7 linked regions of the Homo sapiens genome follow. The protein of the gene in region 6 interacts with the protein of the main gene of each other region in a biochemical or structural test. Each region holds a gene or a part of one and is shown on either strand. Other genes may lie near its edges. The genes, in order: RHOG, FYTTD1, EIF3L, MRPL3, SAE1, ERCC6 and GRPEL1.

Region 1 (2,241 bases), on a different chromosome or scaffold from region 6:
ATTGACCACCAAGAGTCCCCCATGGCCAAGAGGAAGTAGCTGATGAGAGAAGGATCCTTGCCATAGCAGTGTAAATAATCACAGGGTTTCTGGAAGCTGTGTTCCAGAACTCAGAAAAGCAGTTCATCTCCCCGAGGCCCTGTGACCTGCAGAGGTAACCAGATGTTGGCTGGAGCTGGGACTCCTCATACTTACCCCACTCATAAATACAGCAGTCCATTTATTGGGCACTTGCTATGTGCCATACCTCATGCTGGACATCTTCTATACATTATTAACTCTTACTTTTTATTTTTTTTTTTTTGAGACAGGGTCTTGCTCTGTCGCACAGGCTGGAGTGCAGTGGTGTGATCATAGCCCACTGCAGCCTTGACCACCCTGGGATCAAGTGATGCTCCCACCTCAGCCTCCCGAGTAGCTGGGACTACAGGTGTGTACCACCACACCCTGGTAATTTTTTCATTTTTTGTAGAGTCAGGGTTTTGCCATGTTGCCCAGGCTAGTCTCAAACTCCTGGGCTCAAGCGATCTACCTGCCTCATTCTCCCAAAGTGCTAAGATTACAGGCATGAGTCACCGTGCCTGGCCTCATTTCATATTCTGAGCAATTGTAATGCAATAGGCAAGATTATCCCCATTTTACAGATGAGAAAATTGAGGCTCAGGGAACAAATATATTGCCAAGATCACATATAACTAGTTGGTGGAGCTGTGATTAGAATACCTGCGAGTCTTACTCTAGCATCTATGTTCTTAATGATGGTATTTTCTATCCAAGAGTCTGGAAGTCTCTAAAATCTTTCAGAGGCACATGCCAGGATCTCAGGAAATGGACAGAAGATTGAGGGGAAAGTCAAGTTTTTGTCTTACTCTTGACTTCATCCTTCCTAGTTGGGCCTGAAAGATTTGCTCCAGGCCGGGCATGGTGGCTCATGCCTGTAATCCCAGCACTTTTTGGAAGGCCAAGGCGGGCAGATCACAAGGTCAGGAGTTCAAGACTAGCCTGACTAACATGGTGAAACCCCGTCTCTACTAAAAATACAAAAATTAGCTGGACGTGGTGGCATGCGCCTGTAATCCCAGCCACTCGGGAGGGTGAGGCAGGAGAATCGCTTGAACCCGGGAGGTGGAGGTTGCAGTGAGTCAAGATTGCGCCACTACACTCCAGCCTGGGCGACAGAGCAAGACTCCGTCTCAAAAAAGAAAAAAATTTGCTCCACCCCACCAAGGGCCTTGAGAGAAGATACTAATGTCTGGGAGCCTCAGCCTCTACCTCATTCATCATAACATACCCAGACCCCAGTCCAAATCCCAGGTCCAACTGAATCTCCAGTATTCCCCTGCATTGAATTGGCAATCTGAGTGTACATGGCCAGATAGGGTTTTCAGTACTTACAAGAATGATGGGGTGGCCAGGTGTGGTGGTTCACGCCTGTAATCCCAGCACTTTGGAAGGCTGAGGCAGGTAGATCACCTGAGGTCAGGAGCTTGAGACCAGCATGGCTAACACGGCGAAACTCCATCTCTACTAAAAATATAAAAATTAGCCGGATGCAGTGGCACCTGCCTGTAGTCCCAGCCACTCGGGAGGCTGAGGCAGGAGACACTTGAACCCAGGAGGCGGAGGTTGCAGTGAGCTGAGATCACGCCACTGCACTCCAGCCTGGACGACAGAGTGAGACTCCATCTCAAAAAAAAAAAAAAAAAAAAATTTCCCCATTGCCAGAATACCCTGGATTGGGATAGGGCAGCTCTCTAAAGAATTGAGCCCCTTACTCAGCAGGTTTCTTAACTGTGCCTTTGGGTTTGTACTCAGTAGCCAAGATACCAGGTTTGGAGAGGGCAGGGTGGGCCCTGAGTTGAGAGAGGTTCTACTTATGGCTGCATCACAGAGTGACCTGGGACAGCTGTCCTGTGCCAAAACACTTTCCAGTCTCCTGGTGGAAAGGGTCCATATTTAGTAGAGGATCTAGTAGATCCCTAAATTTGTGCACTCTCCTTTTGTGTCTGTATAGCCTGGAAAAAAAAAATAGCTAATACTGGCCAGGCGCAGTGGCTCACGCCTGTAATCCCAGCACTTTAGGAGGCCAAGGCGGGCGGATCACGAGGTCAGGAGATCGAGACCATCCTGGCCAACACGGTGAAACCCCATCTCTACTAAAAATACAAAAAATTAGCCGGGCGTGGTGGTGGGTGCCTGTAGTCCCAGCTACTCGAGAGGCTGAGGCAGAATGGCGTGAAC
Region 2 (3,500 bases), on a different chromosome or scaffold from region 6:
ACTGAAGAACACCCTATTCGTTCTACCACTGAAGAACACTCTATACGTTCTACCACTGAAGAACAACTCTATACGTTCTACCACTGAAGAACACTCTATACATTCTACCACTGAAGAACAACTCTATATGTTCTACCACTGAAGAACACGCTATACGTTCTACCACTGAGGAACAACTCTATACGTTCTACCACTGAGGAACAACTCTATACGTTCTACCACTGAAGAACAACTCTATACGTTCTACCACTGAAGAACAACTCTATACGTTCTACCACTGAAGAACAACTCTATACGCTCTACCACTGAAGAACACTCTATACGTTCTACCACTGAGGAACAACTCCATACGTTCTACCACTGAGGAACAACTCCATACATTCTACCACTGAGGAACAACTCCACACATTCTACCACTGAAGAACACTCTATACATTCTACCACTGAAGAACAACTCCATACATTCTACCACTGAAGAACAACTCTATACGTTCTACCACTGAAGAACACTCTATACATTCTACCACTGAGGAACAACTGTATACATTCTACCACTGAAGAACAATTCTATACATTCTACCACTGAAGAACACTCTATATGTTCTACCACTGAAGAACAACTCTATACTTTCTACCACTGAAGAACAATTCTATACATTCTACCACTGAAGAACACTCTATACATTCTACCACTGAGGAACAACTCTATACATTCTACCACTGAGGAACAACTCTATACATTCTACCACTGAAGAACACTCTATACATTCTACCACTGAAGAACAACTCTATACTTTCTACCACTGAAGAACAACTCTATACTTTCTACCACTGAAGAACAACTCTATACATTCTACCACTGAAGAACAACTCTATACGCTCTACCACTGAAGAACATTTGGGTTGTTTCTCCAAGTATTTACTGAGTGCCTAAATTATTTTTCACACACGAAGTTAAAGATTTCATTCATTGACTTGTTCAGCCATCAGAAATCATACCGCGGATCTGCAAAGAGCTCCTCTGTCCTACTTATTTCTCTTACCTCAAGCTAACATCCTCATTGACATTACAACGTGGAAATCTGAACTTTTTCCTAGCCAATCAGAGTTTAAGACAATCCTCTATCTCTGTACATTCAGTAACAGTGGCAGCTGTTCTATTTTAGCCCGTGTCACATGTAAGCAATAAACATACAAGGGCAAGCTCAATCTTAGGAGATCCTAAGCTGCCCCTAGATATCATTTATTTCAAGGCTCAGATCATAACATCCATAAAAGGAAAGCTTTTCTGACACTTCATGGACCAGATCATATTTCACCTTATCCATTAAATCACTCCTGATCTTCTTAGTACAAAATCTCTAAAGTCCTATAATACTATTTGAATTTCTCTTACAACATTTCTCCCACACTACCTTTTCCATCTTATCTCTAACACCGGAAATTAATTCCTTGAAGTAGAAGACCACATCTTTATGTACCCCCTAGGACCCAATCAGTTTAGGGTATCTATCAAGTATTTAACACTGAAATATATTCATGTTAAATATTTGATAAACATTAATTAATAAATATATTTCTGGTTCTATGAACTCTCAACAGTTATTTTAAAAACAAATAATACAAAAATATATAGTATGTTCAATAACATTTATAAGAAATATTTAGGCCAGGCGCAGTGGCTCACGCCTGTAATCCCAGCACTTTGTGGGGCTGAGGCAGGAGGCCGAGGCAGGTGGATCACCTGAGGCTGGGAGTTCGAGACCAGCCTGACCAACGTGGAGAAACCCTGTCTCTCCTAAAAATACAAAATTAGCTGGGCATGGTGGCGCATGCCTGTAATCCCAGCTACTTGGGAGGCTGAGGCAGGAGAATCGCTTGAACCCGGGAGGCAGAGGCTGCAGTGAGCCAAGATCGTGCCTTTGCACTCCAGCCTGGGCAACAAGAGCAAAACTCCGTCTCAAAAAAAAATTTAAATATAAATCACTGGAACTAAACTTCATTTGCTACAGTTAAATACCTGTCATGAAATTTACTCCCTTAGGTTCAACTATTCAAAAAATTATTAGAGATGAATAATTTTTTTTAAGGGCCCAATCTCAGTTATATGTACTTTTCTTGAGACAGAGTCTCATGCTGGAGTGCTGTGGTGCCATCATGGCTCACTGTGGTCTTGATCTCCCAGGCTCAAGCCATCTTCCCACCTCAAACTCCTGAGTGGCTGGGACCAGAAAGAGGTACCACCACGCCTGGCTAATTTTTAAATTTTTTGTGGAGACAGGGTCTCCCTGTGTTGCCCAAGCTGGTCTCAGATTCCTGGATTCAACTGATCCTCCCAAAGTTCTGGGATTACAGGCATAAGCCACTGTGCTCAGCTTCAGTTATACATATTTTGAGGATATAATGGGATATTAGCTGTAAACACAGAACTAATTATGTTCAACCTACTGGAGATTATTTTTATGTTTTTCAACATATAGAATAAAAATCAATTTGGAAGTTAGTTTGTCAAACATATTTTTACATATCTGAAAAAGATTTAGTTCTTTTATTTCAACAAATATTTATTCTAAAATTCTGATATTGCTGATAAAGAAGTTAACAAGCCATATATATTAGTGTTCAATTACTGCCTTCAATCAAGATGGTTATAAATAAGCTTCCAGATTATCAAAAATAACTAAATGTGTAGAGTTCCACATTATATCTAAAGCATTCATTTCTGAGTGTCAACTTTGGAAGATTTAACAAATCCTAAAGTTCTTGGATGATAAGATAAGGAGTCTGGAGGTCATTTTCTATGCAGAATGTAACAGTAGTCTCCACATACTTAAAGAGTTCTCATATACAAAAGAGAATTTGCTTTCTATAACTTTACCGAAGTGATAGGCATGCTTTAATCCAAATTAAGAGGCCAGGCACAGTGGCTCATGCTTGTGAGGTAGTATGCTCTTTCACTGAATATATTTAAGCTGGAGTTAGTCATCCATTAGACAGACTGTTAAAGGAACATCTCACTTGGATGAAGATAGGAGCTCATGATATATAAGATCCTTTGCAATTCTAAACTCTGAATATAATTTAGACTGTGTATAAACTGAAGTTACTTTTAAATGACTTACAACGTTTAAGAGACAGTGTTACGTCTATTGAAGGCTACTGAAATTTTTACCAGGTTTTAGATCTAAACAAAAACCTAGGCATAGAGGAAACACAAAACACAAAGAGTACTGACGCATTCCTCCACGTTAAGCATATGCTAAAGACAGTACACTATGAACACACAAATAACAGCTTTCCATTAAAGCTTACTTTCAAAACTTACCAGAATTCTGTTGGATTCCCCATCGCACTCTCATCCTGAATTGCTGGGCACCACTTTGCTGGAGGAGTCTTCTATTTAGTCTTGGAAAATTCTGCTTCTTCCCTTCCTTTCGATTCAACTTGATGATATCATCTATGATAGAGGAAATGTCAATTATTTTCATTTTAACTTAACT
Region 3 (3,500 bases), on a different chromosome or scaffold from region 6:
GCTCTCTAGCTTCCCACCTTTGACTTTCTTAGATGATGTCCTTTATATATGGGTGAGGTAGGCAAATCCAACTTCATTATTTTGCTTGTGGATATTCAGCTACCCTGGCACCAATTTATTTATTTATTTATTTTATTTTATTATTATTATTTTTTTTGAGATGGAGTCTCGTTCTGTCTCCCAGGCTGAAGTACAGTGGCACAATCTTGGCTCACTGCAACCTCCGCCTCCCAGGTTCAAGCGATTCTCCTAGGTTCAAGCAATTCTCCTACCTCAGCCTCCCGCGTAGCTGGGATTACAGGCGCCCGCCACCACGCCCAGCTAATTTTTGTATTTTTAGTAGAGACGGGGTTTCACCGTGTTGGCCAGGCTGGTCTCGAACTGCTGACGTCAGGTGATTCGCCCACCTCAGCCTCCCAAAGTGCTAGGATTATAGGCATGAGCCACCGCACCCAGCCTGCCCAGCTAATTTTTAAAAATTTTTTGTAGATACCGGGTCACACTTTGTTGACCTGGCTGATCTTGAACTCCTGACCTCAAGTGATCTTCCCAGAGTGCTGAGATTACAGGCATGCACCACTGTGCCCAGCCACATTGTCTTGATTACTATATTTTTGTAGTAAGTTTTGAAATGGGGAATTGTAGGCCGGGCGCAGTGGCTCACGCCTGTAATCCAAGCACTTTGGGAGGCCGAGGCGGGTGGATCACCTGAGGTCGGGAGTTCGAGACCAGCCTGATTAACGTGGAGAAACCCCATCTCTACTAAAAATACAAAATCAGCCGGGCATGGTGACACATGCCTGTAATCCCAGCTACTTGGGAGGTGGAGGCAGGAGAATCACTTGAACCCGGAAGGCAGAGGTTGCGGTGAGCCGAGATCGCGCCATTGCACTCCAGCCTGGGCAACAAGAGCGAAACTCCGCCTCAAAAAAAAAAAAAGAAAGAAAGAAATTGGGAATTGGTAAGTCCTCCAACTTTGTTCTTTTTTTTTTTTTCCCCAAGATTGTTTTGACTATTCTGGGTCTCTTGGATTTGCTTATTGATTTTAGGATGGACTTGTCAATTTCTGCAAAGTAGCCAGCTGGGATTTTGAGAGGAATTGCCTAGAATCTGAAGATCACTTTGGGGAGTATTGCCGTCTTAACAGTATTAAGTCCTCCAGGCCAGGCGCGGTGGCTCATGCCTGTAATCCCAGCACTTTGGGAGGTGAAGGTGGACGGATCACGAGGTCAGGAGATCGAGACCATCCTGGCTAACACGGTGAAACCCCGTCTCTACTAAAAATGCAAAAAAGTTATCTGGGCAGGCCGGCATGGTGGCGGGCACCTGTAGTCCCAGCTACTCGGGAGGCTGAGACAGGAGAATGGCGTGAACCCGGGAGGCAGAACTTGCAGTGAGCTGAGATTGCGCCACTGGACTCCAGCCTGGGCGACAGAGCAAGACTGCGTCCCAAAAAAAAAAAAAAAAAAAAAAACCAATATTAAGTCCTCCAATCTATGGACATGGGATGTCTTTGATTTATTTAGGTCTTTGGTTGCGTTCACCAGTGTTTTGTGTTTTCAGTGTACAAGTCTCTCATTTGTTTTGTTATAGCTAACGTTTTTTTGAACACTTAACTCCTTTTTTTTTTCCCCCTAAGATGGAGTCACGGAGTCTTGCTGTCTTGCCCAGGCTGGAGTGCAGTGGCGCGATCTCTGCTCGCTGCAACCTCTGCCTCCTGGGCTCAAGCAATTCTCCTGCCTCAGCCTCCCGAGTAGCTGGGATTACAGGCACCTGGCGGATTTTTTGTATTTTTAGTAGAGATGGTGTTTCACCATCTTGGCCAGGCTGATTTTGAACTCCTGACCTCAAATGATCCACCCGCCTCAGCCTCCCAAAGTGCTGGGATTACAGGCATGAGCCACTGCACCTGGCCTGAACATTTACTCTCAATTGACTAAACACAGAATGAGTTCAAAACTCATTCTGTGGCTGGGTGTCGTAGCTCACGGCTGTAATTCTGGTACTTTGGGAAGCTGAGGTGGGAGGATTTCTTGAGGCTGGGAGATTTAGACTAGCCTGAGCAACATAGGGAGACCCCCTTCTCTACAAAAAATTTTTTAAAAAAATTATCCAGGCATGGTGGCACATGCCTGTAGTCCCACCTACTCGGGAGGCTGAGGTGGAAGGATCACTTGAGCCCTGGAAGTCGAGGCTGCAGTGAGCCATGATCATATCACTGCACTCCAACCTTGGCAACAGAGCGAGACCCTGTCTTCAAACAAACAAACAACATTCTGAAATTAATATTTTCTTTCTTCCTTTTTTTTTTTTTTTTTTTTTTTTTGACATGGGGGTCTCACTGTGTTGCCCATGCTGGAGTGTAGTGTGATAATGGCTGACTGCAACCTGTGCCTGCTGGGCTCAAGCGATCCTCCCACCTTAGCCTGCCGAGTAGCTGGGACCATGGGTGCGCACCACCACGCTTGTCTAATTACTCTTGTGTGCTGGTTTTTTTATGCACTTGGATGGCAGAAGTCTCTAAATGGTGAAAGGAAATAGATCTGAATGAGATCTTAATCTCATCGACAGAGATTGAGGTTGATGGAGTCAAATGAGAAGTGGATTTTCTCATTGCATGTATTCTTGGGGCATATGCATAGCAATTTAGATGTTGTTTAGTCTTCAGAATTACCTTTATTCCTCCCCACCAAAGAGCTAAAGCTGCCAGGATACCCCAGTTTTATGGTTAGTGAAGCACCCTTCTGCCATCTCTTTCAGATGCTGTCTTCCTGATTTTATACAAAGAATTATACTACAGGCACATATATGCCAAAGTCAGTGTAAGTATTTAAGTGTCGCAGTTTTTTTTTTGTTTTTGTTTTTTTAACTCTGTGCTGTTTTTGTCCCTAGAACACAGTCATTTGTTTATATTGGTTCAGTGTCTGGGCATGATTGGCATGTTTTTGAGTTTTAAGAAGCGGTGGAAGGAACAGTTTAACCCAGAAAGCTGTTCAGACACACTAACGCTATATAACCTATGCATTCTTTTAAATTTCTCTGTCCCCACAATTCTCCTGGACTGGGCAATCACCCATGCACTGGTTATAGGCTGCCAGCCTCATAGGATATTTCCAGGTACCTGCTGCTGCTTCTGCTTGGGGTTCTTTTTCCCTTCAGAGCATTGAGCCTCTGTTTCTCTGAGATGTACATAACACTGTCACTGTATGCCAAGCACAATGCTAGGCACTTAGCACACATCTTCACATATCTAATTCTACTATCAATCGTGCAAAGTTGGTACCCGAGGTGCCAAGAGGTTACCTTTTCTCAAATTTATCCAGCTAGTAAGTGACAAAACTCCTTGAATCTAGACCAGCTTGTTATAACACCAGTATTCTACACATTATCCCAACTTTGAGCACTTGCTAGATTCTGTTCTTCCCGACTTCTAAATTATAGAGTACGTGAAGTTTCTTTTTTTTTTTTTTTTTTTTTGAGAGAGAGTGAGTCTCGCTCTG
Region 4 (3,500 bases), on a different chromosome or scaffold from region 6:
CAATTTTATTTTATTTTTAGTTAATACTAGCTTGCTGTAACTAGAGGCTGGAGAAGCCACAACCTCACTGATTCTAATTTCTAAAGTAAGTGGGCTGAGTAGATGGTCCTCAAAAAATCTTCATGTGGAGAAAAAACGTACATAAATGGGAGAGAATGATTGGTCAAAAAATGGTACTGAGAAAATAAAATATTTGGATAAGGAATCAAGTTTGACCCATGGCTCCTATCTAATAATGAATAAGTATTAAATATTACAAAAATTGAAATCACACACACGAAGAAAATACAGCAAATAGATGGTCTCTGATAAGTATAAATGTAATAGAAGGGGTAAAAAAAATCTTAGGTTTAATTATATAAAATTTGAAAACTTCTCCTGGTCAAAATTTATATATAAAAGGTATGCAGAATAGAGACTGGGAGGATATGCACCAAAATGTTTCCAGTGATTGTCTTTGGGTATTGTTCTTATTGGTGGCTTATTTTCTTCTTTGTACTTCCTACACTTTAAAACATACATGCAAACAAATATAAACATTAGTTGTTTAACAGAAATATAATTATACAGCATCCATTATAGTATAACTCAGTTTTACTTAGGTACATTTCTCATTGGTAGAGATTGAATTCAACTTCTCTTTTAAATATACACAGACATTTTTTATAAAAACGGATGTATATCATAATCCTTTTGTAGTGCTATTGTTTCCTCCTATTTTGATTGCCTCCCACTCTCCTCCTTACACTTACACACACACACGCACACACACACACACACATTTGATATATAATCCAAGAACCTGGTATATACCCTTCCACTCTTCTGTGATTATATGATGGCACAGCAACATACACACGTAGAGAGCTTTTGTTAAATCTTTTACTCAATAAAGAGTATTATACTGAATGCTCTGAATCTTACTTTTTTCATGCAACAATATCTTGTAAAAATCTTCCAGGTCCAAGAGTGGACTACTAATTTTGTCTCTTTAATGACTGCACTTTTCATGGCCTGAAATATACCCTATCATTACTACCACCATTACTACAACTAGAGTGTACACACACACACACACACACACACAATTCATGTATCCTCTTTTCCTCAATAATTTTAAAGCCTCTTAGAACAATGGTACAGACACAGATTAAATACATATTCTGCTGCCTTTGCATTTAGACAATTTAGCTGTTCCTAAAAAGAACCACTTGTAACACTTACTTTCAGTCCATATTCTGTCCTGTATATGTTTCCCATTTTTCCAGGCATTTTAGTTCCAGGCCAGACTCTGCCAATATCCTAAATGAGAAAACTAAAGTTAACACTTTTAAGTACTATCAATTTTAAACAGCACTGATCAAACCACAATGTAAACTAAAAATATAAATTATTAAAATGTTTTATTTTTCCCCTATTCTGCTAGGTCCCAAGTAAGGAACTAAATATGGATTTAGGCATATTTACTCCTAGAGGATTTCCTTTCTAATGAGACTAGAATGATAAAATAAATACAGACTAAGAAGCAGATTTAGGAGAAAAACTCAGCAACAACGGACCTAATACTGGCTAAGAATTAAAAAAGGACAAGGGCATACAGACACACCGACACCATCATTCAAAGAAAAAAAATGGACTGCCAGGCCTGTTTTGAACTCATCTTCTGTATTAACTGACTTAATGGACTTCATCCATACCACTGGTGCTGGAATGGTCCTACTGCTCCTTGCTTTAGATGTTACTTTCCTTGACCAAAATTATTCAAGGACAGAGTTAGTTATCAGAATACTAGTTTGTCTAGCCCTGGTTTTCTCTGATTTACATAAATCTAACAGTCTCTGATTTTGGCTCTGATAACGGGTAATAGTTCTACATCTAAAGAAGCAAATCTGAATTATGACTAAAATGGAACAGCTTCTTATAACACATGAATTCTCACAATATAAACACTTTTCCATCAGCTGCTCTCACATTAACAGGTGAAACTCTCAGTGGAAGTACCTCATCATGGCATTAGATATGTTTAATATGTAACCAACAGGCTTAAAAGACAATTCTGAGTATTACAGACTAAGTATCACTCTTATTCATTCTACAAATATATTCCGTTATATATGACTACAATGTTCCAGTAGACAGAACTAAGACACACACACACACACCCCTCTGTTTCTCTGTGTGCTACATTTTTTCCTTGTGTGCATGCATGCATTCCCCTCCCCCACCAAACAGTATATGCATACTTATAGTTTGAATTCAACACTATAGGGTTCATTTTAATTTTCCCATTTTCATACTTTAACGCCCTTTTCCAACAGTGAGAAACCTAGCTCCATTATCAATACATTTACTTATCTACTCAATCCTACAATTCACAGAAAATTATTTCAGAATTGTTAACTGATACTAATTCAAAAGACAAACTGAATTCAACATTTGCACAAAGTACATTTTAAATTTAGACTCAGGGTATATACAGCCAAACTACAGATGCTCAGCTAACCTTGTGGAATATAACTAATTCTAGTCTGGCTCTGGGAAATGAGTGAGGGGCAAGGATCCATAAAAGGGTGACAAGTACATGGAGTCCCCTTGTGTCAGACTAAAATTATGTGACTTCATATCAAGGACGGACTGAGGACTACATGTGCAGAAGTTGAATATTTAGCATTAAAAAGAGCTTCACTAGTTATACTCACACCAGTTGCAACAGCTCCAGGTCTCCTGTGGGTTTTCGTTTGACCATGCGTAGCAGGCTGGCCTTTAAATCCCCATCTTTTCATGACACCTTGAAAACCTTTACCAATACTGAACAAAACAAACGTTAGAATTTACATAATGAAAAGAGCATAGACCATTCCCAATTGTACACTTTCTAGTACCAACTGTACACATTCTTGTTAGAGTTTTAACAAAGCTTCTTATTTAAATAACTAGAAAAGGCTATACAACTAAAACTGCAAATAAATATTCCTTTATCTCTGTCTTGGTCTGCACCCCTTCCTGGAGTCTAATTCTATATAAAATGATTAATTCAAGATTGTGAGACACCAGCAAGCTAAGCACAGGGAATTTTATCTGAACAGGAGTTTTATCATCCTAATTCTGTGAAGATGACACAGTAAAAATGGAAAAGCTCTAGAAGTTTCAAAGTACTTATAGCAGATATGGCAAGCAGCCATTAAGATGGAACCCAAAGATCACCACCTCCTGGTACTCATGCTCCTGTTTAATTCCCTCCCCTTGAGTCTGGGTGAACCTAGTCCCTTGCTTCTAATAAATAAAATATGGCAAGAGTGATGAGATGTCACTTCTGAGATTTGGTTACAAAGAGACTGTAGCTTCCATCTTGGTACTCTCTTGCTTGCCAGGCTCTGAAGGAAGCCAACTTCCACAGCTAGTGTAAACTGTCCTATGGAGAGACATGCTGCAAGGATGTCTCCAGCTATTAACGAAGGACCTGAGGTCTGCCAATGGACTATTAGTAGGTATGGAGGCAG
Region 5 (3,500 bases), on a different chromosome or scaffold from region 6:
CCATCAACACCAAATACCATGTTTACGTTTTGTTTTATTGAAACAGGGTCTCATTCTGTGAACCCAGATTGAAGGGCAGTGGCAAGATCAGGGCTCGCTGCAGCCTCAACCTCCCAGGTTCAAGTGATCCCGCCACCTCGGCCTATTGAGTCCTGGGACTATAGGTGCACACCACTGCACCTGGCTGATTTATGGGTTTTTTTTTTTTTTTGTAGACACAGGGTCTCACTATGTTGCCCAGGCTCATCTCCAGCTCCTGGGCTCAAGCAATCTTCCTGCCTCTGCCTCCCTCAAAGTGCTGGGTTTACAAATCCCATCACTTTGGGAGGCCAAGGTGGGTAGATCACCTGAAGTCAGGAGTTCGAGACCAGCCTGGCCAACATGGTGAAACCCCATCTCTACTAAAATTACAAAAATTAGCCGGGCGTGGGCTGGGCACGGTGGCTCACACCTGTAATCCCAGCACTTTGGGAGGCCGAGACAGGCAGATCACGAGGTCAGAAGACCGAGACCATCCTGGCTAACAAGGTGAAACCCTATCTCTACTAAAAATATAAAAAATTAGCTGGGCATGGTGGCGGGCGCCTGTAGTCCCAGCTACTCGGGAGGCTAAGGCAAGAGAATGGCGTGAACCCGGGAGGTGGAGTTTGCAGTGAGCCGAGATGGCGCCACTGCATTCCATCCTGGGCAACAGAACAAGGGTCTGTTTCAAAAAGAAAAAAAAAAAAAATTAGCCGGGAGTGGTGGCAGGCGCCTGTAATCTCAGCTACTCGGGAAGCTGAGGCAGGAGAATCGCTTGAACCCGGGAGGCGGAGGTTGCAGTGAGCCGAGACCGCACCATTGCACTTCAGCCTGGACGAAAGAGCGAGACTCCGTCTCAAAAAAAAAAAAAAAAAAAGAAATACCCAAGTGGGCACAAAAATGATACACATTCAGCAGGGCACGGTGCCTCACGCCTATAATCCCAACACTTTGGGAGGCCAAGGCGGGCAGATCACGAGGTCAGGAGATTGAGATCATCCTGGCTAACATGGTAAAACCCCGTTTCTACTAAAAATACAAAAAAAAAAAAAAAAAAATTGGCCGGGAGTGGTGGCGGGTGCCTGTAGTCCCAGCTACTCGGGAGGCTGAGACAGGAGAATGGTGTGAACCCGGAAGGTGTAGCTTGCAGTGAGCCGAGATCGCGCCACTGCACTCCAGCCTGGGTGACAAGAGTGAGACTCTGTCTCAAAAAAAAAAAAAAAAAAAGATACACATTCACAGCAGCATTGTCCATCTACTTCCCTCAAGTTCCACAAACACCACTCTAGTCTGAGCCACCATCGTTTCTCTCCGACAAAACTACAGCAGGCTGGACGCAGTGGGTCACACCTGTAATCCCAGCACTTTAGGAGGGCAAGGCATGAGGATCACTTGAGCCCATGAGTTCGAAACCAGCCTGGGCAACAAAGTAAGACTCCATCTGTACAAAACAAAAAAAAATTAGCTGGGTGTGCCAGGCGCGGCGACTCACGCCTGTAATCCCAGCACTTTGGGAGGCCAAGGTGGGAGGACCATGAGTTCAGGAGATGGAGACCATCGTGGCTAACACGGTGAAACCCCGTCTCTACTAAAAATACACAAAATTAGCCGAGGCGGTCGGATCACTTGAGGTCAGGAGTTCGAGACCAGCCTGGCCAATATGGTGAAACTCCATCTCTACTCAAAATACAAAAATTAGCCAGGCGTGGTGGCACGTGCCTGTAGTCCCAGCTACTCGGGAGGCTGATCCTAGAGAACATCATCCTTGCTCCCATCCTTGCTCCCACCTTAGGACCTTGGCATTAGTGCTTCCCATTGCTTCTTCCCTCAACTTCTTAAGGGACACATTCTTTAGGTCTCAGCTCAATTGTCACCTCCTTAGAGAAGTCCATACTGGCCACCTAATTTAAAATAGGTCCACATCCTCTTCTATCTCGAATTATGCTACTTGTTTTTGTTTTGATTAAGATGGGGTCTGTGTTGCCCACTGTTTTGATTGAAATGGGGCCTCACTAAGTTGCCCAAGCTAGTCTCAATTGCCTGGCTCAAGTGATCCTCCAACCTCAGCCTCCCCAGTAGCTGGGATCACAGCCACACACCACTGTGCTAAGCTACACTACTTGTTTATATGTTTACTGCCCCCTCCTCCATTAGAATGTAAACTCCAGAAACCACTGTATCACTAGAACCAGTAACTTCCTTGGCATTTAGGACATACTGTTACTCAAATGGCTGTGAATTAATAGACACACCAAAACAAACCTGTGTCCATCAGCAGAATTATAGAAATCTGGTACATAATAAAATAATAATGGCCAACATTTATCTAACACTTACTATGTGCCAAGCACTGTTCTACTAAGCTCTTTGTATGTATTATGTCATTTAATTCCCATGACAATCTAATGGGCTGGCACTTTGTTACCCCTCTTTTGCAGCTGAGAAAACAGGCACAAAGAAGGTAACTTCTGGCCAGGCGCAGTGGCTCATGCCTGTAATCCCAGCACTTAAGGAGGCTGAGGCGGGTAGATCACCTGAGGTCAGGAGTTCAAGACCACCCTGGCCAACATGGCGAAACCTGGTCTCTACTAAAAATACAAACATTAGCTGGGCGCGGTAGCAGGCGCCTGTAATCCCAGCTACTTAGGAGGCTGAGGCAGGAGAATTGCCTGAACCCGGGAGGCAGAGGTTGCAGTGAGTCTAGATCACGCCATTGCACTCCAGCCTGGGCAACAAGAGAGAAATTCCGTCTCAAAAAAATAAAAAAATAAAATACACACACATAGGCCGGGTGTAGTGGCTCACGCCTGTAATCCCAGCACTTTGGGAGGCCGAGGTGGGCAGATCACTTGAAGTGAGGAGTTTGAGACCAGCCTGGCCAACATGGTAAAACCCCGTCTCTACTAAAAATATAAAAATCAGCCAGGTGTGGTGGCACGCGCCTGTAATCCGAGCTACTCCAGAGGCTAAGGCAGGAGAATCGCTTGAACTCAGGAGGCGGAGGTTGCAGTGAGCCAAGATTGTGCCACTGCACTCCAGCCTGGGCGACAGAGTGAGAGTCCATCACAAAAAAAAAAAAAAAACAACACACACACACACACACACACACAATCAGCTGAGTGTTACGGCATACGCCATGCACACACAAAATTAGCTGAGTGATATGGCATACGCCTGTGGTCCCAGCTACTTGGGGGCTGAGGCGGGAGAATCCCTTGAACCCGGGAGGTGGAGGTTGCAGTGAGCTGAAGATCACGTCACTGCGTCACTGCACTCCAGCCTGGGTAACAGAGCGAGAAAAAAAAATTTTAGTTGTAATTGTCAACTATCAATAAAAACTCCAGAAACTTGGCCTCAATTTAAGCAACCAAATCTGCTCTAGGAAGCTGCTTCTTTACTTTATTTTATTTTATTTATTTATTTTTGAGACAGAGTTTCGCTCTTGTCACCCAGGCTGGAGTGCGATAGTGTGACCTTGG
Region 6 (3,500 bases):
TGTCCACCTGCTGAAGCACTCCCTGTTCCAGCACGTCCTGGTCATAGACGTCCACACCCAAACCCTGCAGCTCAAGGGCCTGGGCGCTAGGCTCTACTGCCTGGATCTGATGTCGGTCGATGTGCAGCAGGGCTGGCCCTCTCCTCGGAGCTGCTGATGCGCACCCCACAGCAGAGGTGGACAGCCCGTCACCCACAGAACGAAAGGAGAGGTACTCCTCCACCTCCCCATCACCACCACTTTCTTGCTTGATTGCCATTTCTTCATTATTACTGACAGGTTGACTCTGTAAACAGTCTTGCTCCTGAGTTTGACTTGAGTGGGGGATTCCCTCATTTGGCATTCTCTACAGACTACCTAAAAGGAAAAAAATTTATAAGCCTTTTCGTTATATAGGATTCATTGTAGTTCTTAAATATTTTATAATTAGAGCAGACTGATTTCTCAAAAGATCAAGTAATAATCTTCCAACTACATAAATTCAAGTTTCCAAGTATTAATTTACTAAAAAGGGACAACGTATCTTCTTGAGTTCTGATAATAAATAAGAAAAATTAACCAGAAAAAGAAATGCAGTATCATCAACAAAGGACATTTAGGCAGCCAGCTAAGAAAGCCAGCCACCAAAATCCTGGGGTGATGGCCATGGAATATTCTTCAAAACAGCTGAAGTCATTTGGCTGCTGTTTTCCAAGTTAGCATCTTCATTTCATTATGACACAAATGATTTATAATATAGTGGCAAGATCAACTGTAATGCATAGGAACAGCGATGTTAGGAAAGAGCTTCTGTGTGAATCTGAGACTAGAAACTCCTAGGCTGAATACCTATCCAGTAAATAGGAGCTTTGAACAAATCAGAAGCTCAGAAGATTAATTAGGCCAGGCACGTGGCTCAGTCCTGTAATCCCAGCACTTTGGGAGGCCAAAGCGGGAGGATAGAGACCAGCCAGGGAAACACAGCGAGCTCAGGACTTCGAGACCAGCCTGGGAAAGATAATGAGACCTTGTCTCTACTAAAAATTTAAAACCTTAGCCAGGCCTGGTGATGTGCACCTATAGTCCCAGTTACTCAAGGGGCTGAGGCAGGAGGATCACTTGAGCCTGGGAGATGGAGGCTGCAGTGAGCCATGATTGCACAACTGCACTCTAGCCTGGGCAAAAGAGCAAGACCTTGTAAAATAAATTTAAAGTTTTTTTAAAAGATTAATTAAAATATTCTCAAAAATAGGCTGGGCACGATGGCTCACATCTGTAATCCCAACACTTTGGGAGGCTGAAGCGGGCAGATTACTTAAGGTCAGGTGTTTGAGACCAGCCTGGCAAACATGGTGAAACCCGATCTCTACTAAAAATACAATAATTGGCTGGGTATGATGGTGAGCACCTGTAATCCCAGCCACTCGGGAGGCTGAAGCAGGAGAATCACTTGAACCCAGGAGGCGGAGGTTGCAGTGAGATGAGATCTCACCACTGCATTCCAGCATAGGCAACAGAGTGAGACTCAATCTCAAAAAAAAAAAAAAAAAAAAACAAAAAAAAAACTCCATTTTAATACACAGTATAATTTCTCACCCATCAGGTTAGCAAGAATTCAAAGCCTGATAGATAAATCCAATACAGACAAGGAGAAGGATCCCCCCTCACATAGTGCTGCTGAGAATATAAATTAGTAAAGCCCCTTGTAGGGACAACTTAGCAATATCTATTAAATTAAAGGCACATGACCTTTGTCAAGCAATTCTAGGTATTTATTCCAGAGAACTAGTCACACACAGGTGCAAGAATGTTTAGTGCAGCACATTTTTAATAGTTTAATGTAACTACTAAGTATATTCTGTATACTGATATAAAAGCCATGTTAAGTGAAAAAATTCATGGTATGAACACACTTATGCTGAAAAAAGTATCTATCCTGCACACAGAATGATCTGGCAGGATACAAACTAAGCCTGCAAATCAGGATGGGGAAGAGAAAGCACAGGGAAAAATAAGGGGGAATGTTCACATTGTACTCCACATACTCAGGACCTGCTGCTTTAAGGAGAATATATTCACTATATTACCTATACAACTATCACATCTAATAAATATATTAAAAAGCAAAACGATAACCAAAAATCAGTCTTGCTTTTTGTTTAACTGTGAATAAGATTTCTTTGAGCACTGTAACTTTTCTGTTAAATGACAAGTTCCCCCAGTGGGCCCCACTCATCCCTTATTAAGTAAAATAAGCCCAGCAATAAAGCACCGGGATACAAAGAATTCAGCATCATCTACACCCGAGTGGCTATCCACTGGAGCAGCAGCATGTCAGTTAACAACAGAGCAGGGCAGGTCAGCTAGCCCGGGACACGGACAAGAGGTCACACGAGCATCGAGCGAACTATATATGGTGTCTGGGGCCCAAGAAATATCACGGAGGAACTGAGATTTGAACACATGGGCCATGCATGGTCTGATATATAGGAGGTGCTCAATATCTGCTGAAAGGAAGTGAGGTTCAGAGCTAAGTCTAAAATAATAAAAAGTTTGGTCTGGACAAATGAGTCACCAGTGAATTCAGTCACAAAAATGAGACTCTCAAAAAGGAAGCAGATAGGAAGCAGGACTGGCAAGCAGCTTACATGTAATCAGTACCATTTGCAGCATGCAGTCAGAAATGCAAATCTGAGCTCAAGGGAAAGTCTGGGTGACATGTGGACACATCAGCAGAGTGAGCAGTTCCAGGGTTCCCAAGGCTCTGACAGGTACCTAAGGTCATTTTGGAGGGTACGAGGAGGCTAACATTGGAAAGGTTAAAAAGTGAACAACACAGTGAGAAAGTTCCTTCTTTTGGGGCCTGCTGATTATTTTCAAGAGGAAGGCTCAGCTCACCTCACTTTCCAACAGAGAGAGCAGGATTCCAGCTCAGAGTGTCTGTACTAGCTGGCAGTTAACAATTCTGTTTTCATTTTTCTTATTTGTACACACATGAGGATTTCTTTTTAAGAAAAAAGGATGCCAATTCAACCAAAAATATTAAGTAACCATTTTTCTATTTCTGTAAAATAATATCAAAAAGCAATAGTATTGTAGTGTAAAGACAAGGTTAAAAATAAAGAAGTTTGGGGAAAACTTCTAATAATAAAAAAGGAGGAAGAGCGTCCAGTGAATGAGAAAAGGCTGAGTGAATTTGGATACCAATGGGTCACCATTTACCTTGGTAAAAGAAGTTTCAGGCCAGGCTTGGTGGCTCACACCTGTAATCCCAGCACTTTGGGAGGCCAAGGCGGGTGGATCACCTGAGTTCGTGACCAGCCTGACCCAACATGGTGAAACCCCATCTCTACTAAAATACAAAAATTAGCCAGGCGTGGTGGTGCATGCCTGTAATCCCAGCTACTCGGGAGGCTGAGGCACGAGAATCGCTTGAACCCAGGAGGCAGAGGTTGCAGTGAGCTGAGATCACACCGCAGAACTCCAGCCTGGGCAACAAGAGTGAAACTCTGTCTCGAAAA
Region 7 (3,335 bases), on a different chromosome or scaffold from region 6:
CCAGGAAAAAAAGTGTTTCAATGAGCGCCTCAGTCTCTGTGAATGCGACAGAGACTCTAGCTCTTAGTTTCCATGTGGCCTCTCACCGTCTGACCCAGGCAAGGCCATTTACCCTCCCTCGAGCCTTAGGTTCCACATCTCTAATACCCACTGTCAGTCACGCAGAGATCCAGAGCCAGCACTCAAACAACCAGCCTGTGGAGCTGGGAGCCTGGGGTTACGTACCAGCTTTGTGATGTGTGGCAGGTGACTAAACCTCAATGATCTCAACTGTAAAATGGGAAGGACAGTAACAAAAACATCCAAAGGTGGCAATGCATATAGCATGCTGGGAGTTCTGAAGTGATGCCAGTGTTACTTCCGGAGGGCTAAGGGGATGGGCATCAGAGGCTGACCTGCTGCAGGTTCCCACCAAGGTCTCTGCGTGGGGGAGGACACACCTATTTACAATTCTTCATGCTAGTCTCAGCTACTTGATTTCTGCTCCTCCAGACACCTTTGCTGTTGAGCCATCATAAAAAAAAATGCAGGGGATGCAACAGCTGGACCCCCCACCCCACAGCCTTGCTCTCTGACACTTCCGTATGCATGGCCTTCCCCTTCCCCACCCCATTATCTTCTTTCCGGAATCAACACCATGTTATGTTGAAAGTACCGTATAATTTTGCCTCCTCCACCAATTTCTGGCTCCTCTGCCGTAAGTTCTCAGTGTCTGCCAAAGCTCGTTTATATTTTTCCTAAAAGAGAAAAAAAGGGATATTTATATATATATATATATATATATATCTTTTTTTTTGAGACGGAATCTTGCTCTGTATGTCGCTCAGGCTGGAGTGCAGTGGCATGATCTCAGCTCACTGCAAGCTCCGCCTCCTGGGTTCACGCCATTCTCCTGCCTCAGCCTCCCGAGTAGCTGGGACTACAGGCGCCTGCCACCACGCCCAGCTAATTTTTTTGTATTTTTAGTAGAGATAGGGTTTCACCGTGTTAGCCAGGATGGTCTCCATCTCCTGACCTTGTGATCCGACCGCCTCGGCCTCCCAAAGTGCTGGGATTACAGGTGTGGGCCACCATGCCTGGCCGGGAGATTTATATTAATATGGAACAAAGTCATAGGAAAGCGAGCTTGATTGGAAAACGGCTGTGTAACTAACTACAAGTCAAAACAGAAGTAATATCACTGCCTTTGAGATGTGACTAAGGAGGGCAGCTTAATGAAAGCTTAATAAAAGCTGCACTCATGATCTTTTGCTATGCTGTGTTACCCAGAGGTGGCTCAGTTCAAACATTCCTTGTGTAATCATCATCTGAGTTCTAGTATATTCCTCATGTCTCACCACCTTCCGGTAAGCTCACTCATCTGAGCCTTTTTTTTTTTTTTCTGAGACAGGGTCTTGCTCTATCATCCAGGTTGAAGTGGTGTAATCTCGGCTCACTGCAGCCTCAACCTCCTGGGCTCAAGCAATTCTCCCACCTCAGCCTCCTGGGTTGCTGGGACTACAGGAGTGCACCACCACGCCCAGCTAATTTTTAATTTTTTTTAGAGATGGAGTCTCACTATGTTGCCCAGGCTGGTCTTGAACACCTGGGCTCAAGCAATCCTCTTGCCTCAACCTTCCAAAGTGCTATCAGAGGGGTAAGCCACTGCGCCCAGCTAGCTTTTCTCTTTTTAACATTTACTAAGTTGCTCTGTGGGGGCCTCTATACTGCATCCATTTTCAGTCTTCAGGTAATCACTGTACAGTGGCAAGGAGCAAGAGCTCCAAGTCCAGGGGGTTCTAGTTCGAGCCCTGGCTCCGCACCTGGCAGCCAGGATTAACATATGTAACGGGTTTGGAATGGTGCCAGCACTCAGGGTTTGATGTCTTTCTCAAATCCTTAAAGAACTTGATTTGTGCCACCTATGTGTTTTCACATGGAGTAATAATCCATGTTACTAGTTCATAAAACTCCTACCTGCCTATGAGAGCATCACATAAAACCACACTCCTGCTCCCAACTCTTGTACTTGCAATTTTCTGCTTCCTCTCCTAAGTCCCAGCCTAAACAACCATACTGAGCATTCCTCATTTGTAAAGATGATTTTAAGTTTTCATTCAATGACAAATAACAGCGTGTAAAGATTAGTCTCTTGCCAGAACCAGAGTTGCACAGGATTTGGGTTTTAGTCTTTGCTTTGGCAGTAACTTGCCACCTGGGCCCACTGCAGGCCATGGACAACGGCTTAACTCTGGCTTTAGTCTGTCACCAATGAAACCTGGAACCTTTATGTGGCCCAGGAGAGAAACAGTTCAGCCGAGCCCGCCCCCACAGGAGCCTCACAGTCCTCACCACAGTCTCCTTCAGCTGTTCCTCCAACTTGACCTTCTCTTCCAGGAGGGTCTTCTCTGTAGCAGGAGGATCTGCCTTCTGTTCACTCTGACCCATGTCCTCTTCCAGGTTCTGGCCACTGTTCTTTTGTTTCGTGGCTGTGCACAACAACCGGGGAGATGGCCTACAGGGAAGTCCACACGTGAGAAACGAAGACTTAGTTTTTGTGCTTATTAAAGTCAGATGTATGACTTTAGAAACTTAAAATAGCTTCAAACTATTTACTATTACTTGGGGAGAAAACATTTCTGTTAGATCTAATAAAGGCACACTGTACGTGACATATAGAAGCTATATTAGTAAATATAAAAGCTGTAAGTCATATACAATGTGCCTTTATTAGATCTAAGATAAACATATATATATTTTTTTAGAGACAGGATTGGTCTCTCTCTATATATCTATCTATCTATACATCTATCTATATCTATATGTATTTCTTTTTTTTTGAGAGAGAGAGTCTTGCTCTGTCACCCAAACTGAAGTGCAGTGCAACCTCCGTCTCGTGGGTTCAAGGGATACTCCCACCTCAACCTCCCCAGTTGCTCGTCACCACACCCGGCTAATTTTTGTATTTTTAGTAGCGATGGGGTTTCACTATGTTGGCCAGGCTAGTCTTGATATCCTGACCTTAAGTGATCTGCCCGCGTTGGCCTCCCAAAGTGCTAGGATTACAGGCGTGAGCCACCGCGCCTGGCCTCTCCATGTATTTTTAGAGACAGGGTTTCGCTGTCACCCAAGCTACAGTATGGTGGCACAATCATAACTCACTGTAACCCCGAACTCCTGGGCTCAAGTGTTCCTCCCACCTCAGCCTCCCAGAGTGCTGGGATTACAGGCATGAGCCACTGTGCCTGTCTTTTTTATAAGATCTTCTGTAAGTACATGCCTAAACTTACATGTCAATGTGCCAAGTTACAGTACTTGGTACAGAACAGTACTAACCTCCTCTTTCCATTCTAAGG

What was found.
Region 1: the proteins of ERCC6 (region 6) and RHOG form a complex in vitro, tested with the Homo sapiens proteins (one large-scale study listed by BioGRID).
Region 2: the proteins of ERCC6 (region 6) and FYTTD1 form a complex in vitro, tested with the Homo sapiens proteins (one large-scale study listed by BioGRID).
Region 3: the proteins of ERCC6 (region 6) and EIF3L form a complex in vitro, tested with the Homo sapiens proteins (one large-scale study listed by BioGRID).
Region 4: the proteins of ERCC6 (region 6) and MRPL3 form a complex in vitro, tested with the Homo sapiens proteins (one large-scale study listed by BioGRID).
Region 5: the proteins of ERCC6 (region 6) and SAE1 form a complex in vitro, tested with the Homo sapiens proteins (one large-scale study listed by BioGRID).
Region 7: the proteins of ERCC6 (region 6) and GRPEL1 form a complex in vitro, tested with the Homo sapiens proteins (one large-scale study listed by BioGRID).

What each region holds. Positions count from the first base shown.
Region 1 is NC_000011.10:3,828,719-3,830,959, reverse strand, and holds part of RHOG (rho-related GTP-binding protein RhoG), read left to right. Parts: intron 1-2,241.
Region 2 is NC_000003.12:197,756,383-197,759,882, reverse strand, and holds part of FYTTD1 (UAP56-interacting factor), read right to left. Parts: intron 3,458-3,500; coding exon 3,326-3,457; intron 1-3,325. UniProt on the Homo sapiens protein: Required for mRNA export from the nucleus to the cytoplasm. Acts as an adapter that uses the DDX39B/UAP56-NFX1 pathway to ensure efficient mRNA export and delivering to the nuclear pore.
Region 3 is NC_000022.11:37,855,919-37,859,418, forward strand, and holds part of EIF3L (eukaryotic translation initiation factor 3 subunit L), read left to right. Parts: intron 1-2,760; coding exon 2,761-2,822; intron 2,823-3,500. UniProt on the Homo sapiens protein: Component of the eukaryotic translation initiation factor 3 (eIF-3) complex, which is required for several steps in the initiation of protein synthesis.
Region 4 is NC_000003.12:131,468,472-131,471,971, forward strand, and holds part of MRPL3 (large ribosomal subunit protein uL3m), read right to left. Parts: intron 2,809-3,500; coding exon 2,700-2,808; intron 1,303-2,699; coding exon 1,225-1,302; intron 1-1,224.
Region 5 is NC_000019.10:47,137,335-47,140,834, reverse strand, and holds part of SAE1 (SUMO-activating enzyme subunit 1), read right to left. Parts: intron 1-3,500. UniProt on the Homo sapiens protein: The heterodimer acts as an E1 ligase for SUMO1, SUMO2, SUMO3, and probably SUMO4. It mediates ATP-dependent activation of SUMO proteins followed by formation of a thioester bond between a SUMO protein and a conserved active site cysteine residue on UBA2/SAE2.
Region 6 is NC_000010.11:49,532,622-49,536,121, forward strand, and holds part of ERCC6 (DNA excision repair protein ERCC-6), read right to left. Parts: intron 358-3,500; 5' UTR 344-357; coding exon 1-343. UniProt on the Homo sapiens protein: Involved in repair of DNA damage following UV irradiation, acting either in the absence of ERCC6 or synergistically with ERCC6. Involved in the regulation of gene expression.
Region 7 is NC_000004.12:7,061,730-7,065,064, forward strand, and holds part of GRPEL1 (grpE protein homolog 1, mitochondrial precursor), read right to left. Parts: exon of another isoform or gene 3,154-3,335; intron 2,495-3,153; coding exon 2,332-2,494; intron 738-2,331; coding exon 656-737; intron 1-655. UniProt on the Homo sapiens protein: Essential component of the PAM complex, a complex required for the translocation of transit peptide-containing proteins from the inner membrane into the mitochondrial matrix in an ATP-dependent manner.